Linked DNA regions of Homo sapiens. The protein of the gene in region 1 interacts with the protein of each later gene in a pairwise test. Each region holds a gene or a part of one and is shown in the gene's direction. Other genes may lie near its edges.

Region 1 (3,500 bases):
GGGGAGGTTCTGTGGACCCAGAGGGCAGTGGCTCGCTCCCCATTTTTCATTCACTTCACCCCAGCCCGTCTTTCCTTCAGGGCACTCTGACTGCTCAGGGGAAGCTGCTGCAGCAGGACACATTCTATGTGATCGAGCTGGATGCAGGCATGCAGTCCCGGACCAAAGAGAGGCGCGTGTTCCTCTTCGAGCAGATTGTCATCTTCAGTGAACTGCTCAGGAAGGGATCCCTCACCCCTGGCTACATGTTCAAAAGGAGCATCAAGGTGAGGATCCCAATGGTGATGAGAAGAGGCAAGGAAGAGCCCAGTTCTTGGGAGCTGCTTCCCTAAGACGAGGCCCTGGAGTTGTGACATCCAGAACCGTGAAGATCTTTCAGCCGAATAACATTCGGTCATGGAGGCTGCACGACAGTGATTATCTGTGAGCTGAAGTGACAGGCTGAGCCAGTCTCTGGCATGATCCTGCAGGTTCCCTGGGATCGTGTCACTCACCCAGAGACAAAAACCTAAGTACTGTCCTGCTAGATCCAGGGCAAAATTTGGAAGCTTGTCCTGAAATAGAAACTTTGAGGAAGAGTAATATGTTGCTGATTTTTAAAAAATCTTTTAAATGTAAAAAGGATCAACTCGTTTTCTTCCAGATGAATTACTTGGTCCTGGAGGAGAATGTGGACAATGATCCCTGCAAGTTTGCACTCATGAACAGAGAGACTTCTGAGAGGGTTGTTCTGCAAGCCGCCAACGCTGACATCCAGCAGGCCTGGGTGCAGGACATCAATCAAGTCTTAGAAACACAGCGAGACTTTTTGAATGGTGGGTGCTGGGCTTGGTTCCTTGCAGGGCTGTGTCAGGGGACTCCACGACCTCTGAGCTTCCTTGGGTCTAGGTTCATGTTGAGTTATGAACCCAGATCACATTTTATAGGTACTCCAACTTTGTAGTTTTCAGAAACACTTTAGAATTTTTCTGAAGCTGAATACACAAGCACAACAGATAGGGTATGAAAAAGAAGCTCCATCTTTCTGATAGAAGAGATTTCACTTATAGGACACAGGATATATGTCTTGTGGCCATCACTACCACCTGGTACTAATTTGGGCAAAAGTCTGAGATAGGCACATCCTCTGTGTCTAAGGAACCAGGACCGGCTAGAAATGATATGTGTTTTTCCACTTTTCACAGCTTCTGTAGTGTTAACTAGAGATAAATGAGAGTTTGACCAATCAGTTCAAATCCCTCCTCTGCTCCCAACAGTGTGAGAGCCTACATAAGCCACATTACTAGCCAACCTTACCCCTTTTAAATGAGAGATGATTGCTAACTTTAAATTTCTGTAATACCCTGAAACTTCCTAGAAGAAAATTTGTGGTTACACAGAGGGTGTAGCTCTTTGTGGCCCTTGCAGGAGCTCCCTCATGGGTGGTGTGAACTGGAGTGAAGTAGAGTTGCCACTTTGTATATATTTCTTTATTTTTTCCCCTGCTGGGGTTTTCTTCACACTGAGCTTGGCATGGGAAAGGGGTATGCGATTTTAAGCTAGTGGCTGATCTCTGCTGACTTGGTTAGCTCAGAAGTCTAACCAAGCAGAAATAGAGCTTGAAGTTGAATGCAAAATGTAACTAGTAATGAAGTAAACCTGAAGACTCAGAAAACACATATGCCTGTATATCGAGACACACACACACACACACACACACACACACACACACACACACACACACACAACCACCTTTGGGTATACCACCTCTTCCTGCCTGTCCTGAGATCCGTCCTACATGGCCATACGTGCTCACAGGAGCGCACACACAGGTACATGCATGTACACACGTACAGGCCCACCCTCGGGTGTGTCACCTTTTCATGCCAGTACTAGGATCTGGACTCTTTCAAATGATCCAAATACAGCATTTTCTGGATGTCTAGAATGGAACTGAATGCTGAAGGGAAAGATAAAAGGTGCCATACGAGTTGAGGACCTTGAGGAGTCATGACATTTCTCTGGGCCTTGTGGCTGGTTTTGTGAAAAAGGGAGTTCAGGTAGATCTACTTTGCCCATGCTGGCATGCTCTGTGATGGGCCAGTCTTCCTGGAAGCAGGACACCTGGCATCCTCCCTACAATATCAGTTTCCCTGTATTATAAGGGATTTAGCACAGTGTTTTAAAGACAAATAGAAGGAGATCATGTAACAGGATGCCACGACTTTTTAAGATAGAACATGAGACTTCAAAGCAATTTTGCACTTACAGAAAGTATTTTTGGGCCAGGCTCCTGGCCCTCAACTGTAAAAAAAATTTGGTGAAAAACAACTAGACTAAGTGATCTCTAGGATTCTTTTCACTCTAAAATGTCTAAAATTAAACACCAGCCCAGCCCTGAGGGATGGTAATGAAAGTTTTATATGGCTTATGATTTCTGAATATAATATACAACTTCAAATGAACACTTTTGTTGATAAAATAATTTTATGCAAAAATGTGTTCATATATAAAAATATCTGTTTAAATTGCATTCTATTAGGAGTTTCTGATAGATTCTAAGCTGAAATTAGGAATTTTAAAATTCATCAATTTGGGACAAAAGAAAAATAAGGTGCAACAGTAAGTTGAAACAAGAAGTTATTGACATAACAATAATGGCTCCTGTGTATTGAATCCTTGCTCTGTGCCAGGCACTATGCTAAGCATTTTACATGGTTTTTCACATTTAATCCTCACGCCAACATGGAGAGGTAAGTACTATTGTCCTACTTTTTTCAAGTGAGGAAAAGGAGACTCAGAACTTGTCCAAGGTCACAGAAGCAGTAAGTGATAGAAACAGGACTTGAATCCACAGCTATAGGACTTCAAATTAAGGTTGTGAACCACAAAACTGCAGTATAGGTGCTAGTGTTAGGGCACTCATTTATTTAATTATGATCTCCCTAGCAACCAAAGTGAAGAAAGAAACAGGATCAGACATAAGACACTGTATCGATCAGTCAAAAACAAACCCTGTAGGGACGCACAGTTTTCTTGATTCTGAGAATTAAGTTATGCAAATGGAGGCTGGTGAAAGAATACAGGCTGTCCATTTAGCTTATTTAAGAAGGCATTCTATTTTCAAATGTTTTAGCACAATTATTGTAAATAACCAGGTAATATCACAATTCCATGTGATGGGAATTGATTCATAAAATCAGTTTGATAAGGCCTACTTTATAACTCTGCTATGTACTTAGAACTTGGAACTGTATTTATTTAGGCATAGTCAATGATTCAGACCTTTACTTCGTTCCAAGAGACCTTTCTCCTAATGAATCATGGAGATACAGTCAGCCCTTGGTATCCACAGGGAATTGGTTCCAAGACCTCCCGAGGATACCAGAGTCTGTGGATGCTCAAGTCCCTTACATAAAATGGCATAGTGTTTGCATATGACCTGTGTACATCATCCTGTACTTTAAATCATCTCTAGATTGTTTATAATACCCGATATAATGTACATGCTATGTAAATGA
Region 2 (3,500 bases), about 61 Mb from region 1:
CTTCCTGCACCGCCCACTCTGGAAAAGAAACCTGAAGACAATTCCAATAATAGGAAATTTTTAAATAAGAGATTATCAGGTAACTTCAAATTTTCTTTCTTCATAATGCTTCTCTATATATTAAATGGGCATTCGTGGGGAGCAAATCAACTGCAATCTAGAATTCCTATTTTTAAAACTGGTCAACTTCAGCTTTAGGAGGAAGTTCCTTAGTTAATATGTTTGTTCTTTTCACTCTTGGGTTTTAAAGAGCATGAGTGTGTGTGTGTGTGTGTGTGTGTGTGTGTGTGTGTCATGTAAAAGTAGCTTTCTAGTGGTGTATTTCTGAAGGAAGTAATACAGACTTAAACAATATCTTTTCTACCATCTGATGGCAGTAGTCACCCCCTGTCTTAGTGATGTTGCTGCTTTGTTGCAGCACTCACACGTTGTATATTTTTTATTTTATTGATAATGTGGCTTTTATTCCAGCTATAATTTATCTAACTGTTGATTTCTTCTATTTTCTTGCTTAAAAAATACATGGAGGAGAGTTTGTCAGGCCACATGTAATGCCTGTGTTCTTTTGACAGAAAGAGAGTTTGATCCTGACATCCACTGTGGGGTTATTGATCTCGACACCAAGAAGCCCTGCACCCGGTCTTTGACATGCAAGGTAGGTGGACTCCTGAAAGTCAAGTCGACCATCCTGATAAACATGGGTGACTGGGATGTACCACACTACTCCCACAGTCTCTCTAACCCAGAGAAGATGCTCTGTGGATTGTTGTGAATTGTGTAGGTGAAGGAATAACTTGGTTCTGTTGAAGAAAGCCTCAGATTGACAAAATGTGAAGTGCGTTGTTATAAATTATAATCTTGACAGAGGTTTTGTTTCTAATGAGCAGTGTTGTATCCACAGGAATAGTGTTCTCTCCCAGTCTGTTATTTTTAAAAACTTTTAATATTTCCATATAGGCTACCCTTGACTGTGCTTTAAATTATACTGGCTTAAAGCAAGTGCAGAAATTTCCCTTGCGTGTGTATGAACATTTAAAAAATGTGTCACCCATGGTCTTAAATTTTAAAGAACCACTTTTTAAAAAATCTGTGATTTTGAAATATCCCTGTTTTCTAGTTTAAAAAAAAAATACTGCAAGCCAGGCATGCCTGTAAGTCCCAGCTAGTGGGGAGGCTGAGGCAGAAGGATTGCTTGAGCCTAGGAGTTTGAGTCCAGCCTGGAGAACATTACGAGACCCATCTCTTTTAAGAGAAAAAAAAAACTAGATAAAATATATTAATAATTTATATACAAGCTAAGAAAATGTAATGGTCTTCCTTTTTGCTCTGGGGTCTTCCTTCTTTTAAAATGCCAGTATGCTAATAAGGTATATTTGCTGAAAAGTGTGGGTTATTGATGTGGGGTGGCTTCAGGTCATCAGTGAACACCTCTACATAAATGAGCTTGTATGTTGATGTGCATTTCTCTGGAGGGTGTCCCCAGCTACCCCCCAGATAGGTTCAAGAAGCATTCAGAGTCACTGCTTTGAAGTATGTAATTTTAAAACCTTAGAGGGAGGAAGTAAAAATGATAAAAGTTAGCATTTTCTTCTAAAAATTAATAAAATTGTTAGTGTTTTACTTTAAATTTTATTAAAGTGTATTTGAATAAAGGACTTCAGGCCCTGTCCCATGCCCCAGCCAGTGGAGGCATGTTACAGTCTTCTGGAGTGGGAAATTTTTAAGTGGTTCTTACTTTAAGCTTCTAATTTAATTTTAGTATATAGATTTTGTCTTACAACAGTGGTTCAGAACCTTTTTGGGGAAAAGGGTTGGTCAAGAGTACCTTTAAATATCTCATTTTTAAAAAAAAAAAACCACGGTCCATCTTCCGAGAATAAAATAGTGCATACACATACACATTCTGAATTTTTCTATCTTGGATTAATGGACACCCCCACCCCAAGCCCATCCTTGGATTTCTAGGTTAAAAACTCTCATAAAACAAACTGCTTTTTTTTTGTATAGGGTACTAATTGGACACACAGTGGTGTAGTGGTGGTGGTGTATGAAGATAGCCACCTGAGTTCTGTAGAATTATGTCAGTTTCAGCTGTCCCTAAGAGAATGTGTGAAAGCATGCCTCAGCCCTGTCCACATCATGATCACAACTTGCCATTCTCCTTCTGCGCTCTTCCTGCCTACCTGACTCTCAGTAACATGGATTTCTCAGTAATACAGTACCTGTGGGCAATGAGGTTTGCTTTTTTCAAACCCAAGATGTTCTTTTTCAGTCATTTACAAAGCGTGGCAGGGAACCACACCTTTAAGTGTGCAAGACAGTATTGTTGACTGTGAAAGAATATTATACAGCAGATGTCTAGAACTTGTTCATCTTGCTATAACTGAAACTTTATGCTCATTGATTAGTAACTCCTTATTTCGCTCTCCCTTCAGCCGCTGGCAGCCACCACTCTAGTTGTTGATTCTGTGAGTTTGATTATAGATCTCATATAAGTGGAATCATGCGGTGTTTAGTCATTATGTGACTGGGTTATTTATCTTAGTATAATGTCTTCAAGCTTACCTCATACTTGTTGTAGCATATTGCAGAATTTCCTTCTTTTTAAGGGCTGAATAGTATTCCAGTGTATGTATATACTATGTTGTCTTCATCCAGTCACCTGTTGACAGACATTTATATTGTTTCTACATCTTGTCTATTATAAATAATACTTCAGTGAACATAGGAGTTCTAATAGCTCTTTGAGATTCTGATTTCAGTTATTTTGGATAACTACCCAGAAGTGAGGTTGCCAAAAGTTTTTTTTCAACTCAAAATCTTCAAGGAGCTTGACTGGCATTCTTCCTGTGCCTTTATTGCTAGGTGGAGTGACTTTGAATGGGTCTGCATTTTTCTCACATCTTCCTTTTCAAATGATATATGCTCCCCTTGTCGTCCTTCTTTAAGGGTGTCATTACTCTCCGTGGCATTGGGCTAAGCCTGTCATTGCATTAATAAGTCTTGAGACCCAGCTTGTCATGAGATCAGCATAGAACTGGCAGAAAATGCAGCATCCACCAGGCCTGCCCTTTTACAGGATGACTTGACTTTTTTTCATTGTTTTGTCAGTTCTTTTCCTTTTCCTTGCCTTCACGTTGGTCTGAATCTATTAAGCTTGGTAGGGCTAAACATGCCTGCATGTCCCTACCCTGAGTGTTTCCCAAGTTGCTGCCAGGTCTCTTCTGTCTTAGACTTAGAACGTTATCTGTTCTCTTCACCGTCAGGGGATTTGCTGCTGTTCATTCCCATTACTCATTCTCTGTTGTCTGTCTCCCATCCTCACTGCCCCTCCTCACTTCTTCATCTGTCTAATATCCCGTCGAAAGTCCTCTGTGCCTTCCACGCGGAGAGATTTGTGACTCCTGTAGCCTTTGTCCATTCACTCATTGTAGAACTTTTTATTACGTACATCTGTGAGCACAGGCCTCACTCTTTCTAGGTCGCAGGGAATAAAGGGT

What was found.
Region 2: the proteins of KALRN (region 1) and ATXN7 interact in a two-hybrid assay, tested with the Homo sapiens proteins (one study listed by BioGRID and IntAct).

Annotation. Positions count from the first base shown.
Region 1 is NC_000003.12:124,666,369-124,669,868, forward strand, and holds part of KALRN (kalirin), read left to right. Parts: intron 1-80; coding exon 81-266; intron 267-643; coding exon 644-815; intron 816-3,500. UniProt on the Homo sapiens protein: Promotes the exchange of GDP by GTP. Activates specific Rho GTPase family members, thereby inducing various signaling mechanisms that regulate neuronal shape, growth, and plasticity, through their effects on the actin cytoskeleton.
Region 2 is NC_000003.12:63,982,367-63,985,866, forward strand, and holds part of ATXN7 (ataxin-7), read left to right. Parts: coding exon 1-79; intron 80-572; coding exon 573-655; intron 656-3,500. UniProt on the Homo sapiens protein: Acts as a component of the SAGA (aka STAGA) transcription coactivator-HAT complex. Mediates the interaction of SAGA complex with the CRX and is involved in CRX-dependent gene activation.